Linked DNA regions of Homo sapiens: region 1 is linked to region 2. The links come from fine-mapping of genetic effects on plasma protein levels. A gene starts in region 2. The other region holds a variant in brackets. All regions are shown on one strand. Distances are from middle to middle.

Evidence for each region. PIP is the posterior inclusion probability: the model's chance that the variant is causal. Protein levels are from antibody-based Olink assays in UK Biobank. Linkage for the fine-mapping came from a reference panel and not from the study's own genotypes, which makes the PIPs less certain.
Region 1: its variant is fine-mapped to the plasma level of the VEGFB protein (UK Biobank, PIP above 0.99).

What each region holds. Positions count from the first base shown.
Region 1 is chr11:64,151,092-64,164,038 of GRCh38, forward strand. It overlaps MACROD1 (mono-ADP ribosylhydrolase 1), which reads right to left. Exons shown (of 11, transcript NM_014067.4): 2 at 1,201-1,302; 3 at 148-264. Among named protein-coding and RNA genes, the nearest start is that of MACROD1, 8.5 kb to the right of the region's middle. RefSeq lists enhancers at 1,293-2,288, 2,289-3,283 and a silencer at 2,030-2,249. The variant G/A (reference allele first, on the strand shown) is at 7,704.
Region 2 is chr11:64,232,260-64,236,968 of GRCh38, forward strand. It overlaps VEGFB (vascular endothelial growth factor B), which reads left to right and starts at 2,325. Exons shown (of 7, transcript NM_003377.5): 1 at 2,325-2,634; 2 at 3,199-3,241; 3 at 3,554-3,750; 4 at 3,995-4,068. The coding sequence starts at 2,575. DNAJC4 (DnaJ heat shock protein family (Hsp40) member C4) reads left to right here. Exons shown (of 6, transcript NM_005528.4): 3 at 171-355; 4 at 445-606; 5 at 1,635-1,721; 6 at 1,814-2,022. The coding sequence ends at 1,925. RefSeq lists silencers at 1,873-2,362, 2,583-2,952.

The sequences.
Region 1 (12,947 bases), 77 kb before region 2:
TTGGGCTGCCATGGCGCCAGCAGGCTGTCCTTGCCAGCAACCCGAGCCTCACTGGAGCCAGGTGGCGTCCACCCAGGCCTGGCACAGCAGAGCAGAGCAAAGGCAACAGGGCGGCCACCAGGTCTCTGGTTCAGGCCAGCCACTCACCGGCGTTGACGATGGCGTCCACCTCCAGCTTGGTGATGTCGCTGCGGAGCAGGGAGATTTTCTCATTGAGCTGCTTGTCCTTTTTATACCTGGGCTCCTCCACCTTCACAGCCACCCCTGGAACAAGTAGGGGCCGGGGAGGTCACAGCGAGGCTGCCCACTGCAGAGGGACCCAGCCAGGGCCCAGGGGCCAGGGCCTTCCCTATCGACCTCCCTCCACCTCCAGGGGCAGCCTGCAGCACGATGACTGCTGACCCAGTACCAGGAACCCACACTGAGGAGCACCTACTGCGTGCTAAAATCACGCGGGGACTCCTTGCATCTTCACAGCAAGGCCACCAGCAGGTACAGTGCCAATATCATCTATCCCATTTCACAGAGGTAGAAACTGAGGATTAGGTGGGTCAGAGACTTGCCTAGGGTTATGGGTCACCAGGCCTGCTGTCTCACCAACACACCCCACTGTAAGCAACCAAATCGCAGCTTCAAACCCCAGCTCCCCACAAGCAAGTAATCTCGGGCAGGTGGCTCACCTAACCTAGGGCTCTGTTTCCAACCATACAATGGGGATAAAAATTGCACTTGTTGTGTTAATAATTGAATGAGATGGCCAGGCGCAGTTGCTGACGCCTGTAATCCCAGCACTTTGGGAGGCCGTGGCGGGCAGATCACTTGAGGTCAGTAGTTCGAGACCAGCCTGGCCAATATGGTGAAACCCCATCTCTACTAAAAATACAAAAATTATCCAGGCATGGTGGTGCATGTCTGTAATCCCAGCTACTCAGGAGGCTGAGGCAGGAGAATCGCTTGAACCCGGGAGGTGGAGGTTGCAGTGAGCCAAGATCGAGCCATTGCACTCCAGCCTGCGCAAAAAGAGTGAAATTCCATCTCAAAAAATAAAATAAAATAATTGAATGAGGTGATACACGCGGAGCACCTGCCTGCAGCAAGCACTCGATACATGCCACTGGACTAGCTCTTCTTGTCTGCACAATTCTCCCAAGCCACGGGTCTGGAGCCTGCCCACCAGGGCCTCCCCCGAGCAGGGCCTACCTTTCGCCATCTCCTTCCATGTCGGGATCTTCTTCAGCCTGACAAAGTCCTTGCAGAAGTAATGTTCCTCCCGCTGCTTGTCACTCAGGCCCTTCAGAAAGGCTGCAGAGGCAGGAAGGAGGATCAGGGTGGGGGCAGAGGAACGGGCCTGGGGCTTGCACCCCCACATCTCCTTTCTTGCCTCATCCAAGAATGCAAACCAGCTCTTCCTGTCCCTCCTTCTCTGGGCACACAGGGCAGGCATGCTGGGGAAACCTCAGAGGCCCCTAGAATATCTTGTCCTGCTCTCTTTGTTCAGGGAGGGAAACTGAGGTCTGGGGAGGCTGAGGGACTGGCTCAGGCATCGCAGACCTGGGTTGTGATGAATTCAGCTCTGCCACTTTCCAGCAGCGTCCACATCTCTCTGGGTCCCCCGTTTCTCCCTGATTAGAACGGGGGTGAAGACGTCCCCTGCAGAACAGCTCCGAGCTTCCTCCCACACACTAAGGCCAAGCCGGTTGGCAGCACTCAGCCAGCGACATTATCCATCAGTCCCACCGCCAGTCAGTTCTGCCCTCACTGTCACTGCATGCAGGCAGCGGGACAGCTGTCCTCCTCCAGGAGCTGCAGGACCAAGTGGACCTGGCACCTGTCCCCAACATCCCCCCCGGCAGCGGCTGAGGGCTCCCAGCATGACCAATGGGGTTGGAATCGTTCTCGTTTTACAGATGAGGAAACCGGGGCTCAGGGAGGTTGGGAGGCCACCCTCACACAGCAGGGACTTGAGTGAGGAGCCAGGCACCCCCCACCCGCTCACAGACTCGGGGTCCACCCTGGCCGGCTCCCCTTGCCTGAGCACTGTCCCATGGGCTCCGCCTTCCCTTGGGGGTGGCACCAGGCACAGAAACCTGGAACCCGTCTCAGAAGGGCCCGCCCCGACCGCGCCAGGCCAGGCTAGCAGCTCACGGGCTCCCCCTGCTGGCCCGAGGCCGCCTGCACACCCAGGCGCTCAGCCCAGCCTGGCACCCTGGACCACAGGCTCCCGGGATGGGGCAGCCCCCACGGCAAACAGCAAAGGCTACAATTGAGAAACTCAAAAAGCATCAAAAAATATGTAGAGGCGGGAGAGCAATTAGAGGAGGTGGTGAGAAAGGAAGGACTGCAGCCTGGAAGCTTCTATGCACATGGCAGTGAGGGGGACAGGTAGGTCCCTCCACAAATGTTCAGGGAGGTTGGGAGGCCACCCTCACACAGCAGGGTGTTTTCCCGGCCAGAGTCACTTCATCATCCAGGCCTCCATCTCCTCATCTAACCACTGCTGGCAGGGGTGATAACAACCCAAGGATGCTGAGAGCATTAGATGACAGAACTCATGCAAGGGGCCCAGTCCAGAGTCCCTGCTGGATGCAAAGGTGGGGTCATCACAAAAGGCTAGGCCCACCCCTGGTCAGCCCCCACTGCTGCTCAAGCCAGAGCCACCTTTCCTGGCAGCCACTTCTGCCCCCTCTTCCATAAACATGTTTGGGCACGAGTAGGTCCTGCATTCAGTACCAGCGCTGCCACCTGCCAAGCCCACCTCCCAGAGGACTCACTGCTGCAGGTCCCCCTCCACCAGGCTGTCCTGCCTGCCCTCAAATAATCCCGTCCCCTCCCTCAACGCCCGCATTCCACGCCCCTGCAGCTGCCCCCTCCTCTGCTGTCTCCACTTCTTCCCTCCCATGCTCCCTTCAGTCCACCCAGTCTGGTCCCTCCTTCCAACAAGGTCAAGGTCACCACACCCCATGCAGCGGCCCCTCCTGCCTTCCCTGTGGACAGGAAGTGTCCTTGCTGCTTTCCTCCCTAGGTCTTCTAATCAGTTGCACAGATTCAAAACGCTCTTTAAGCAAGCAACCTCCGGGGCTGTCCCTCCACTCTCTTCTGAGCCTCTGACCCCCACAGTGCCTGCCTGCTCTCATTCCCCAAAGCCCAGGCATGCAAAACAGAACGTTTGACTCTTTCCCCCAAAACGTCATTTTTTTGTTGCTCCATTCTTCCCTCTTTTTTACTCGAGACCCTGCACCAGGGGTCCCTCCCTTTCCATCCTCTTTTGGATTGATCCCCGTGACACCCTAGAAACCAAGCCTTCCTCTCACCCTCCAGGACTGAGCCTTCCTCATGGCTCCCTAGATCCCACAGACGCTCCCAACTCCCAGCTGATCTCCGTGTGCATCTCATCCCCATCTGTTCCTTGACCGGCAGCCATGGATCCTGGGAACATAAATCAGGTGCCATCCCTCCTCTGTTCAAAACTGCATTCAAACGCCGGTCCTCTGGCCTCTCTCCCACCTCACTCCCAATGCTGCCTCCCCCACTACACCAGTTCCCCAAACAGCCAGGCTGCTTCCTGCCCCAGGCCCTTTGTACCTGCTGTGCTCTGCAGGATATGGGATAGTTTGCTTTTGTTTACACTTATTCTTTTATTTTTTTTTGAGACGGAGTCTCACTCTGTCGCCCAGGCTGGAGTGCAGTGGCACGATCTTGGCTCACTGCAACCTGCACTCCTGGATTCAAGCAATTCTCCTGCCTCAGCCTCCCTAGTAGCTGGGATTACACGCGTGTGCCAGCACACCCAACTAATTTTTGTATTTTAATAGAGATGGGGTTTCACCATGTTGGCCAGGCTGGACTTGAACTCCTGACCTCAAGCAATCCACCCATGTCAGCCTCCCGAAGTGCTGGAATTACAGGCGTGAGCCACGGCGCCGGCCCCCTTTCTTGATCTTGGCCATCTTGACCTGTAGGTTCCATAGGGGATCTGCTGTGTTTGCCATCAGATTCCCACCACCTGGCACGGTGTGTGGGCACCTGAGGGTGCCTGAGGGGCACGCTGAGGAATAAATGAGCCAAGACCAAAGGTTGAGGGCGAGTTTGCTAAGTACAGAGTCTTCTAGGCAGAGGGAACAGTATGTGCAAAAGCCCAGAGGTAAGAGGGAGCCAGAGATGATCCCCTAATTAAAAAAGAAAAAAAAGAGAGAGAGCATTTGGGTGGAGAAAGTGAGGCCAGTCGGTCTCTCCAGGTCTGCCTCCCTGTCTGAGGACGGACAGATGCTGGTGGCAGCCGGCCTAGACCCAGGCTGCGCCTTTTCTTCTGTTATAGGTCCCGCCAGGTTTGGGTTCGTGACCTCCCAACACCATGCTCAGTTTGAAGCCTTGGGTTTTCCCATCTCTGGAATAGGGACAAGGCAGGCCTTCCCTTGCTAACACCCAGGCTTGCTGGGAGGGTCAAAGGAGAAGGTGGCTGTGTGCTGCAAAGTGCGGTCTACACGCCAGACACACTCACTCCTTCCTGGCGGCTAAATAATGCCCAAAGAGAACAAAGCAAACAGGACAAAATTGTGGAGAACTTTTTTTTCCAACTTGGGGACACAGCAGCCGGAGGAACTTTTCTAATTATTTGGGTCCCCAGCACTTGGGGAGACCAAGGCAAGCCAATCACCTGAGCCCAGGAGTTCGAGACCAGCCTGGACAATATGGAGCAACCCCATCTCTACCAAAAAATACAAAAAATCAGCTGAGCGGCCGGGCATGGTGGCTCACACCTGTAATCCCAGCATTTTGGGAGGCCGAGACAGGTGGATCACCTGACATCAGGAGTTTGAGATCAGCCTGGCCAACATGGTGAAACCCCATCTCTACTAAAAATACAAAATTAGCCGGGTGTGGTGGTACATGCCTGTAATCCCAGCTACTCGGGAGGCTGAGGCAGGAGAATCGCTTGAACCTGGGAGGCGGAGGTTGCGGTGAGCTGAGATCACACCATTGCACTCCAGCCTGGGCAACAAGAGCAAAACTCCATCTCAAAAAAAAAAAAAAAAAAAAAATCAGCTGAGCGTGGTGGACATGTGCCTGTAGTCCCAACTGCCTGTGAGGCTGAGGCAGGAGGATCGCTTCAGCCTGGGAGGTCAAGGCTTCAGTGAGCTGTGATTGTGCCACTGCACTCCAGACTGCCCAACAGAGCGAGACCTTGTCTCTAAATAAATAATTTGAATCCCCATATTTGTCACCTTGCACAACTGTGACCTCCCCACTGCGAGGCCTTGGCATGCCACTGTGTGGGCACTCCCAGACGGCTGGACCTGTGGCCAGAAAGTCAGGTACCCACCGTGATGCTGGCGGGACTGGTGGGCTGGGACCCGGACGGACCCCAGAGGCCTTGCTGAAGTGTCTCTGGCTGGGCAGGCCCTGGGAATCCCATGGAACTAGACCAGCGTGACCAGAGACACCTCAGGTGCCCTAGCAGATATCATCTGGCAGATGCCACCACCTTGTTCTAGAGAGGAGGCAGAGTGACCTGCCCCCAGTCACACATAAGCGAGAGGAACCTGAACTTGCTCCCACACTGCCCTCCCTAAGCATGGTAGCCTGGTCTGAGTGATCCACAGCCCACAAAGCCCCTTCTCTCCAGCAAAGCCCACAGGATTGCTCCACTTCCCAGAGACAGCATGCTGGCTCTGCCACCAGCTGGCTGGGCGCCGACCTTGAGGACATCTGTCAGCCCGTCCCTTCTAGTCTATGGACCCAAGTGCATGCCTCAGAAGGCCAGCAGGCCAGACAGCATGTCTGTCCTCACCACCAGAACAAGGCTGTGGCCTGGCTGATCCCCAAAGAGCTACACACTGCACTGGTTTCTGATTTATGGGGAAAGAAAAGGCCAACTGCGCCCATTCAGCATCTCACCTCCATGTCCTCTTATCGGCAATCCTCGCCCGCCAGGCCCCTCTTTGTTCCCCCTGGAGGAGAAACAGGGGCCTTAAGCCAGGAACATGCCCCACGCATTTCTGTGTTTTTTTTTTATTTTTTTGAGACAGAGTCTCACTCTGTCACCCAGGCTGGAGTGCAGTGGCACGATCTCGGCTCACTGCAACCTCTGCCTCCTGGGTTCAAGCAATTCTCATGCCTCAGCCTCCTGAGTAGCTGGGATTACAGGCATGCACCACCACACCCAGCTAATTTTTTGTATTTTTAATAGAGACGGGGTTTCACGATGTTGCCCAAGCTGGTCGTGAACTCCTGACCTCAGATGATCCACCTGCCTCAGCCTCCGAAAGTGCTGGGATTACAGGCGTGAGCCACCGCGCCCGGCCTTGCCCCATGAATTTCTAACATTTCCCACCTCCTCCTGTAAGAAGGACAAATGCAGACTTAAAGCACAAGTGAGTTTTATTTGTTATAAAAGATGTAAAACATGCATTTTCATTTTCTTTCATTTTTGAAGAGGCAAGAGTATTTCACAGTTCAGTGAGATAGGTGTTGTAAAAAGATGTCCGCAGTAAATTTTGATGGAGAGGCCTGACCCCAGACGAAGCTTCCAGCGGCTCCCAGGCACGAAAGCCAAGCAGGAGGAAGCAGGCTCCACCAGAACCATAAAGTGCAGCGGGCGAATGGGAATTCAATGCTGTGTTTTAAGAAGTGTCTTTATGGCACTTTGCAAGATGGTGTTCAGAGAGGTGAGGGCAGGCTGGGGCACCAAGGCAGGGCTCCTCTCAGAGAGAATGCCAGGTGGGCAGGGCTGATAAAGGCTGGGCTCCCAGAATGCAGCGGCATTTAGACTCGGTGGCAGGGGCATTAATCACCTGCGCTCACCGGCCCGCAAGAACAGGGTCTTGTCAAAGCCCACAGCTCGAGCAAAAGGGAGACGGAGCACGCAGCACCTTGGAGCCCCTCTCCTCTACCCTGCCCCCTTGTCTCTGCCCACACCAGGGCATTGGCAAGGCTGCGTCCCCAAAAGACAGGTGGGAGAAGCCCCCCGACTCCCAGGGGTACCTGGAAAATTTGCCAGTGCTGCAGTCAAATCAGATAAGCCATCCACTCTGGATGAAATCCCACGGGGGCTGAAATTAGCCCTGGCTTCTGCACAGTGTGGTGTGAGGCTGGAGCGTAGCAGCCCCACCTTGAGTCACCAAGGAGAGGATGGCTTAGGCTGTGCATGCTCAGGGCCCCAGCACGTGAGACAAGCCTACAAGAGCCCAGTGTCACCACGGCCAGCACAGAGCAGAGAGAGGAGACAGGCCTGAGGGCCTGAGGGGTGACAAGGAAGGGGAGGCTGCTGGGACCCATTCTGGGCCATGATATATAAAATCATTTCTTTTCTTTTCTTTTTTTAATTTTATTTTTAGGAGAGACAAGGTCTGGATATATTGCCCAGGCTGGTCTCGAACTCCTGGGCTCTAGCAATCCTCCCACCTTGGCCCCTAAAGTGCTGGGATTACAGGCGTGAGCCACCACGCCTGGCCCAAAGTGGTTTCTAATGTGATCCCAGCACAACCTCCAAGCAGGTGCCATTGGTCCCATTTTATGGATGAGGAAACTGAGGCTTGGAGAGCGAGGAAGCAGCAGCACGTCTCCACATCTGACAACAATGTCCCTGCTCTTTGTGGCTCACAGCTCTGCCTGCCAGGGGCTGTTGGAACAAGGACCCAAAGCCAGGCCCCTCCTGTGATGATACAGCGCCAGATACCGACAAGGGCCCAACCTAAGTCCCTCAT[G/A]CCCAACTGCCTTTACAGTGAGGGTGTTTCCATGATCTTCTGATGAAAAGGCACTCCCGGGGGGATAAAGAAGTGCCTCAAAACTGAGGGTATTCAATTAGAGAAAGTAGGACGGGCACAGTGACTCACGCCTGTAATCCCAGCACTTTGGGAGGCTGAGGTGGGTGGATTGCTTGAGCTCATGAGTTCAAGACCAGCCTGGCCAACATTGCAAAACCCCGTCTCTGCAAAAAATAGAAAAATGAGGCCGGGTGCAGGGGCTCACACCTGTAATTCCAGCACTTTGGGAGGCTGAGGCAGGTGGATCACGAGGTCAGGAGTTCGAGACCAGCCTGAACAACATGGTGAAACCCTGTCTCTACTAAAAATACAAAAATTAGCCGGTGTGGTGGCACAGGCCTGTAATCCCAGCTACTCAGGAGGCTGAGGCAAGAGAATCGCTTGAACCCAGAAGGCGGAGGTTGCAGCGAGCCGAGATTGCACCAGTGCACTCCAGCCTGGGTGACAGAGCGAGTCTCCGTCTCAGAAAAAAAAAAAAAAAAAAATACAAAAATTAGCCGGTGTAGTGGCACACACCTGTAATCCCAGCTACTCAAGAGGCTGAGGTGGGAGGATTGCTGGAGTCTGGGTGGCGGAGGCTGCAGTGAGCCAAGATACCACCACTGCACTCCAGCCTGGGCAACAAAGTGAGACCCTGTCTCAAATAAATAAACAAACAGGCCAGGCACGGTGGCTCACTCCTGTAATCCCAGCACTTCAGGAGGCCAAGGCGGGCGGATCACCTGAGGTCAGGAGTTTGAGACCAGCCTGACCAACATGGAGAAACCCCGTCTCTACTAAAAATACAAAATTAGCCGGGCATGGGGGCGCATGCCTGTAATCCCAGCTACGCGGGAGGCTGAGGCAGGATAATTGCCTGAACCCAGGAGGCAGAGGTTGTGGTGAGCCGAGATTGCGCCACTGCACTCCAGCCTGGGCAACAAGAGCGAAACTCGGTCTCAAAAAAAATTAAAAAAACAAATAAATAAAAATAAATTAGAGAAAGTAACCCCTGGCTAGTAAAATCAGACACTGCTGAAGTGTCCCCAAAAGACTGAAAGTCTCCCAGCCAGGAAGATCCAGCCTGAAGGTATGTACATACCTAGAGGGAGAATGGGCCCATGGAAATGAGCGTCAGCCTGGAGGTAAAGAAAAGGAGTGTCCAGGGGGAAGCTGAATTTGGCCGTCAGCTTGGAGGACAAGCTGGGCCATGGGCTGGGCATCCTTCCATGGGTCCAGAGCAGGCACTCAGCACTGCATATAGATGGAAATACCGAGCAAACGCCCGGGGAAGGGGATCCTTGTGGGTGGGCTGACCCTTCTCAAACAGGGAAGCTTACCTGCCTTGCCCAGGGCAAGGCTTCCAAAATCACTCAACCAGCCCTGGATAAGATCGCATGCTCTGAGCAATCCTAAGATTACAATTTGGCTTCCATGAGGCTTTCCCATAGGGAGAGGAGGCTCTGCTCAGGCACACCTGAGTTTTCAGACCCACTGCCATTATATTTCCCCACCACAAACTGCACATATGCCTTCTGACCTATACGTCAGTCTCTTGTGAGTTTGGTTACTGTGTGCCAGGCTTTGAGAGAGGATCCTCTCAGGCAGACAAGTATTTGGAGGCCTATCTAGGTACAGCCCTGAAATGAGAGCACATGTCCATCAGAGACATGGAGAGAATGTTCAGGAAGCCAGGCACAGTGGCACACATCTGTAATCTCAGCGCTAGCACTTTTGCAGGCGGAGGTGGGAGGATCACTTGAGCCCAGGAGTTCGAGACCAGCCTGGGGCAACATAATGAGACCCTGTCTCTGCAAGACATTTTTAAAAACATTAGCCAGGCATGGTGGCACATGCCTATAGTCCCAGCTACTCAGGAGGCTGAGGTGGGAGGATGGTTTGAGCCCAGAAGTTGGAGGCTGCAGTGAGCTGTGATTGCACCACTGCACTCCAGCCTGGGCAACAGAATGAGACCATATCTAAAAAAAAAAAAAAAAAAAATGTTCAGCACAGTTTTATTCACAAGAAACCCAAATGCCTATCAACAAAAGAGTGGGGGCCGGGATGGTGGCTCACACTTGTAATCCCAGCACTTTGGGAGGCCGAGACAGGTAGACCACCTGAGGTCAGTATTTTGAGACCAGCCTGGCCAACATGGTGAAACTCCGTCTCTACTAAAATACAAAAATTAGCCAGGCGTGGTGGCGGGTGCCTGTAATCCCAGCAACTCTGGAGGCTGAGGCAGGAGAATCGCTTGAACCCAAGAAACGGAGGTTGCAGTTAGCCAGGATCGTGCCACTACACTCCAGCCTGGGCGACAGAGCAAGACTCCATCTCAAAAAACAAAACCAAACAAAACAACAAAAGAGTGGGAAACAAGCTGTGGTACGTTCATATGCTGGAACACTATACAGCAATGAAAAAGAGGGAACCATTGCCACATCCAATAACAAGGACGAACTGGCCGGATATTGAGTAAAAGGGGCCAGACTTCAAGAAGAGACAAAATGAACAGATATCACAAGAGTGATTAGCTCCAGACAGTACCAAGTGAAAAGAGGCGACTTCTGGCGTGATGGCAATGCTCTACCTTTTGACCCAAGTAGTGACTGCACAGTTGCATACACTGTGCACTGAAGATCTCTACACTTGCAGCACTTGACTGTCAAATGTAACTTGGCTGAAAGTGTGATTTGAATGTAACGATGAAAAGTGTAGCAGTCTTCAAGGGCCACGGCTCAGACCCTAATCAAAGGCAGAGTCCAGCTGGGGCAGCCCCCCAGATCTCCCATAATGTGATGGCTTAAAAAATACACTTGGCCAGGCACAGTGGCTCACACCTGTCATGCCAGCATTTTGGGAGGCTGCGGTGGGCGGATTGCTTGAGGCCAGGAGTTTGAGACCAGCCTGGGTAACATGGTGAAACCCAGTCTCTACAATAAAGGTTTTAAAACATTAGCAGCCCATGGCTCACACCTGTAACCTCAGCACTTTGGGAGGCCGAGGTGGGTAGATCGCTTGAGCTTAGGAGTTTGAGACCAGCCTGGGCAACATGGTGAAACCCAGTCTCTACAATAAAGGTTTTAAAACATTAGCAGCCCATGGCTCACACCTGTAACCTCAGCACTTTGGGAGGCCGAGGTGGGTAGATCGCTTGAGCTTAGGAGTTTGAGACCAGCCTGGGCAACATGGTGAAACCCAGTCTCTACAATAAAGGTTTTAAAACATTAGCAGCCCATGGCTCACACCTGTAACCTCAGCACTTTGGGAGGCCGAGGTGGGTAGATCGCTTGAGCTTAGGAGTTTGAGAACAGCCTGGGCAACATGTCAAAATTCTGTCTCTACAAAAAAATACAAAAAATTAGCTAGGCGTGGTGGCGTATGCCTGTAGTTCCAGCTACTTGGGAGACTGAGGTGGGAGGATCGCTTGAGCCCAGGAGGTTGAGGAAGCAGTGAGCTGAGATCTCACAACTGCACTCCAGCGTGGGCAACAGACCTTGTCTCAAAAGAAAAAAAAAAATTAGTTGCACATGGTGATGCGCGCCTGTACTTCCAACTACTCAGGTGGCTGAGGCAGGAGGATCGCTGAGCCCAGCAGTTTAAGGGTGCAGCTAGCTATGATTACACCACTGCACTTCAGCCTGAGCAACTGAGCGAGACCCTGTCTCGAAAAAAATTTAAATTAATTTTAAAAATTTTGGCCGGCCACAGTGGCTCACGACTGTAATCCCAGCACTTTGGGAGGCTGAGGCGGGCAGATCACGAGGTCAGGAGATTGAGACCATCCTGGCTAACACAGTGAAACCCTGTCTCTACTAAAGAATACAAAAAATTATCTGGGCATGGTGACGGGCACCTGTAATCCCAGCTATTCGGGAGGCTGAGGCAGGAGAATGGCATGAACCCAGGAGGAGGAGCTTGCAATGAACCAAGGTCGCGCCACTGCACTCCAGCCTGGGTGACAGAGCAAGACTCCATCTCAAAAAAAAAAAATTTAAGAAAATTGGCCAGGCCCAGTGACTCACGCCTGTAACCCCAGCACTCCGGGAGGCCGAGACGGGCAGATCACGAGGTCCGGAGATCAAGACCATCCTGACTAACACGATGAAATCCTATCTCCACCAAAAACACAAAAAAATTAGCCGGGCGTGATGGCACGCGTCTGTAATCCCAGCTACTGGGGAGGCTGAGGCAGGAAAATCACTTGAACCCCGGAGGCGGAGGTTGCAGTGAGCTGAGATCACACCACTGCACTCCAGCCTGGGCAACAGAATAAGTCTTCATCTAAAAAACAAACAAACAAACAAACAAACAAACAAAAATTAGCCGGGTATAGTGGTGGGTGCCTGTAATCCCAGCTACTCAGGAGGCTGAGGCAGGAGAATCACTTGAACCCGGGAAGCAGAGGTTGCAGTGACATCACACCACTGCACTCCAGCCTGGACAAAAAGAGTGAAACTGTCTCAAAAAAAAATTTTTTTAAGAAAATAAAAACACACCTTCAAATTCTTTGAGATTCTTTCTTTCAAGAGGTAGAGCCTAATTTCCCTCTCCTGGAGTATGGCCAGACTCCCTGACTCGATTCTGACCCCTAGAATAAAGCAGGAGAGACTTCGAAGACGAGGTCACAAAGAAGGCACTGCAGCTCCATCGGGGTCTCCTCACGATCCCTCTCGTGGAGCATATGCTCTGGGGGAAAAGCTTAGGACATCTATCCCATGTGAGGCACTCAAGCAGCCCCATGGAGAGGCCCCAAAGTGACCAACCGAGGCCTCTCACCAAATGCCATTTTATGGGAGGGAGCTGTTTAGGAAGCCCATCCTCCAGCCCTAACCAAGTCCCACCCGGCCTCAGAGGGAGGGAGACCCTGAGCTAGAACCACCCAGCTAAGCTTCTCTCAGTTTCCTGACCCTCAAGAGATGGAGAGAATGCAGGTTTGCTGTTTTACGCCACTAAGGTTCGGGGTGTTTTGTTACACAGAAATAGATAACTATTGGGGGATCTCCACATCTCACCCCCGAAAGCGTCCCTCTAACTGTGGCTTCAGTAGCAGGCAGAGCCCCAGACCAGCCCCACTCCTTGGGCCTGGCCCACTGTCACTCAATAACGGGTCTGGAATATCATTACCCAGCTGGATGCCTCTTCTCAGGCCACCACCCCTGAGACGCCTCCTCTGATCTCCCCAGCTCAGGTGGCCCCATCTGC
Region 2 (4,709 bases):
GCAGGAGTCCATGCTCTCTGGCCTTCTGAGGAGTGGGCAGGCCTGAGTGAGGGTCACTGACCAGGCAGGGCCTCTGGGTATGACTGGAGCCCTGGTGGGTGGATGTCATCAGCATGGGTCCTGGGGAGGGACAGGCAAAGGGAGATAAGGGGAGTCCTGCCCCACCCCAGCTGCACCCAGACCGGGACCCTGGGAACCCAAGCCTGCACAGCCGCTTTGTGGAGCTGAGCGAGGCATACCGTGTGCTCAGCCGTGAGCAGAGCCGCCGCAGCTATGATGACCAGCTCCGCTCAGGTAGTCCCCCAAAGTCTCCACGAACCACAGTCCATGACAAGTCTGCCCACCAAACACACAGGTACAGTAATCCTGCCCTCAGCTTGCCCCACCCCCAGGTCTCTTGGGTAGTCTCATTTCCACAATGTCCCTTCCTCTGCCTCCCAGCAGCTCCTGGACACCCCCCAACGCACAGTACTGGTCCCAGTTTCACAGCGTGAGGCCACAGGGGCCCCAGTTGAGGCAGCAGCAACACAAACAAAACAAACAAGTGCTGGGGTACTGCCTCCTCCTCATGCTGGCGGGCATGGGCCTGCACTACATTGCCTTCAGGTGATGCCTGTTCTCCCCGGGGTGATGGGCAGAGGGCAGGAGGGTGGGTGAATTCCAGTGTGGTCAGCCAGTCCTCCACAGCACCTCGTGGCCCGTACTCTTGTGTCTCTCAAGCTAAGAGCTGCTTGAAGTTGGTCTCTGGAGCCTCTCCTTACTTATTAAAGGCAGCGCTGCACCAAGAGCTAACGTTGTCATTTACAGTTTTTCATATTTCGAATGTAAATCTTTCATGCTGGCTGCCAGGAAGGGATTGAGCCAAACAAAATCAAGCACAAGCAGCAAATGCAGCACAGCTCATTCATTTGGCAGTAGGCATCTCCCTGCCACTCTCACGCGTGCCACGGAGCTGATTCTCTTTATTCTCTTTTTTTCTTTTTTTTTTCTTTGAGATGGAGTCTCACTCTGTTGCCCAGGCTGCAGTGCAGTGGCGCAATCTCGGCTCACTGCAACCCCACCTCTGCCTCCCAGGTTCAAGCAATTCTTCTGTCTCAGCCTCCCGAGTAGCTGGGACTACAGGCGTCCACCACCACACCCGGCTAGTTGTTTTGTATTTTTAGTAGAGATGGGGTTTCACCATATTGGCCAGGCTGGTCTCAAACTCCTGACCTCAGGTGATCCACCCGCCTCAGCCTCCCAAAGTACTGGGATTACAGGTGAGAGCTACCGCGCCTGGCCACAAAGCCGATTTTCTATAGCAGATACCTAAAGGCCAGTGCCCACTGCTAGCAGCCTGCCTAGTTCAGTGATGGAGTTAGACGCATACCCTTTCTAGTCTTCTGGGAGGAGCACCCCCATGTCCACAGCTGCTGTCACACCTCAAAGTGACCAGGGACTTCGGATGCCATTGGACCCTAGACAAGCCAGGGCCACTCTGAGCCCTCCCTATCTATCACAGGAAGGGTTAGACTGAGGTTCCTAACCCTGTGTAAGGGTAAAAAGCTGTGAGGCCCCTAGAGTGGGGTGGAAGGGGGCAGGACTTCAGGGACAGCAGGAATTGGATTCCCAGGGTTAATTGTGACCCATTGCAGGAAGGTGAAGCAGATGCACCTTAACTTCATGGATGAAAAGGATCGGATCATCACAGCCTTCTACAACGAAGCCCGGGCACGGGCCAGGTCTGTCCCTGCTCTATTCTGCTCCCTGCTCCCTGTCCAGGAACCACACTTCGGGATCCCTATCCCAACCACCCAGGTGCCCTCTCCTCCAGGGCCAACAGAGGCATCCTTCAGCAGGAGCGACAACGGCTAGGGCAGCGGCAGCCGCCACCATCCGAGCCAACCCAAGGCCCCGAGATCGTGCCCCGGGGCGCCGGCCCCTGAGGGGCTCACCTGGATGGGGCCTGCAGTGCGTTCCCGCTTTGCTTCCTTCCCTGGACGGCCCGCTCCCCGAAACGCGCGCAATAAAGTGATTCGCAGAGCTCGTGTCCGGCTCCCTCCTTAAGGCCCGACGCCCCCGGCCCCGGCCTCGCCAAGGGGCAGCGCCCCGCCCTCCGGGTAGTGGCGGCGGCGACTGGGGAGCCCAGCCTCCTGGGCGGTGCGTCCCCTTTCCCCTGCCGCGGCGGGAGGCGGGAGGGGGTGTGTGGAGGAGGCGGGCCCCGCCGACGGCCTCGCCCCCCCACCCCGCCGCCCCGCCCCCGCCCCACGGGCCGGTGGGGAGCGCGTGTCTGGGTCACATGAGCCGCCTGCCCGCCAGCCCGGGCCCAGCCCCCCGCCGCCCCCGCCGTCCCCGCCGCCGCTGCCCGCCGCCACCGGCCGCCCGCCCGCCCGGCTCCTCCGGCCGCCTCCGCTGCGCTGCGCTGCGCTGCCTGCACCCAGGGCTCGGGAGGGGGCCGCGGAGGAGTCGCCCCCCGCGCCCGGCCCCCGCCCGCCGCGCCCGGGCCCGCGCCATGGGGCTCTGGCTGTCGCCGCCCCCCGCGCCGCCGGGCTAGGGCGATGCGGGCGCCCCCGGCGGGCGGCCCCGGCGGGCACCATGAGCCCTCTGCTCCGCCGCCTGCTGCTCGCCGCACTCCTGCAGCTGGCCCCCGCCCAGGTACGTGCGGCCCGACAGCGCGCCCGCCCGCCCGCCGTGCCCTCTCTCAAGGTTGGCGGAAGTGAGGAGGCGACCCGCGGCCTCGGCCGAGGGGATCTGCGGGGTCCGGCCTTGGACGCGGGCGTCTCGGGGGCCCGGCGCGTGCATCCCCTGGGAGGTGCCCCTCCCCGCTGGCCCGCCAGCCCCAGTCTGGGGCCACTCCTCCGCCCCACCCCGTCCCCTGGGCACCGCCGGGGGCGGGGCTCCCTCGGTGCCTGCAGGACCTGCTTCGGTGGGCACTGTGCGCGCTCCTGATCTGCATGCAGCCCCCAAACATGCTCGGCTCCGCGGCCTGGAGATTTGGCGCGGCCACCAGAGCACCTGTTGCGTTTTGGGCCAGGGCAGGTCCCGGGTGGCCAGGAGAGGACAGGTAAAGCTAGAGCAGTGGCCGCAGGAACAGAGCAATCTGGAAAGATGTCAGAGAGGTGGTGAAGCCTACTGATGCAAGGGCAAAGCCCCAGGGACGGTGACAGGGCCACACCCTCCTAAAGTGTACCTTGGGTACAGGTCTTTTCTCTCCCACAGGCCCCTGTCTCCCAGCCTGATGCCCCTGGCCACCAGAGGAAAGGTAATACTTACAAAAACTCGGCACTAGCCAGCACTAAGAGGGTTTGTCATGGGCCCTGATTCCAGGTGTCCATCATCTTGTGTAACTCCCCTAGAAGATTCAAACTATTATTCTACCCATTTCACAGAGGAGGAAATTGAGGCAGTGGGGTTACTGGGATCTGGATAAACAGGGCAGGGGAAGACAGGTTGTGAGGGCAGAGTGGGGAGGGCTAGTGGAGGGTGGCTGTGACTTGGGGACTGGGGAGGACAGATGCTGGGAGCAGCTGCAGGAAAACCAGTGAGGACTTAACCCCTACCGGTCTGCTCCCAGTGGTGTCATGGATAGATGTGTATACTCGCGCTACCTGCCAGCCCCGGGAGGTGGTGGTGCCCTTGACTGTGGAGCTCATGGGCACCGTGGCCAAACAGCTGGTGCCCAGCTGCGTGACTGTGCAGCGCTGTGGTGGCTGCTGCCCTGACGATGGCCTGGAGTGTGTGCCCACTGGGCAGCACCAAGTCCGGATGCAGGTACTGGGCAGGTGGGGCAACGGGCAGGGGATGCAGGTACTGGGCAGGTGGGGCAGCGGGCAGGGTGGATGCTGGCTGGCTCTGGGGCTGGGGCAGCCTGGAGACTGATGCACAGGAGACAGGGTTGGGGGGAGGGCTGGTGGCCAGCCTCCCGGCTGTTGGGTGAGCTTTTCTCCCTTCAGTCTTAGAGCATCCCCTTTCTCTCTCTCCCTCACTGTCCCCCCTGTTCTTCTCCTGAGCACAGATCCTCATGATCCGGTACCCGAGCAGTCAGCTGGGGGAGATGTCCCTGGAAGAACACAGCCAGTGTGAATGCAGGTGCCAGCCAGGCCCAACTTCTGAGCTCGCAGAGGCCAGGCTTGGGGGGTGCTGGGTATGGTGGTCCACAGAACTGGGGACCAGGTTCCTAAGAGTAGAACCAAGGGGCCGGGCGTGGTAGCTCACGCCTGTAATCCCAGCACTTTGGGAGGCCGAGGCGGGCGGATCATGAGGTCAGGAGATCGAGACCATCCTGGCTAACATGGTAAAAACCTGTCTCTACTAAAAAAATACAAAAAATTAGCCGGGCGTGGTGGCGGGCACCTGTAGTCCCAGCTACTCCGGAGGCTGAGGCAGGAGAATGGCATGAACCTGGGAGGCGTAGCTTGCAGTGAGCCAAGATCGTGCCACTGCATTCCAGCCTGGGCGACAGAGCAAGACTCTGCCACAAAAAAAAAAAAAAAAAAAAAAAAAAAAGAGTAGAGCCAAGGGTAGGCCTTGGATCTGGGGCAACAAAGTAGGATGCTTGGGCCGGGGGTAGTGGCTCACACCTATAATCCCAGCACTTTGGGAGGCCCAGGCAGGCAGATCACCTGAGGTAAGGCGTTTGAGACCAGCCTGGCCAACATGGTGAAACCCCATCTCTACTAAAAAAAAATACAAAAATTAGCCGCGCATGGTGGCAGGTGCCTGTAATCCCA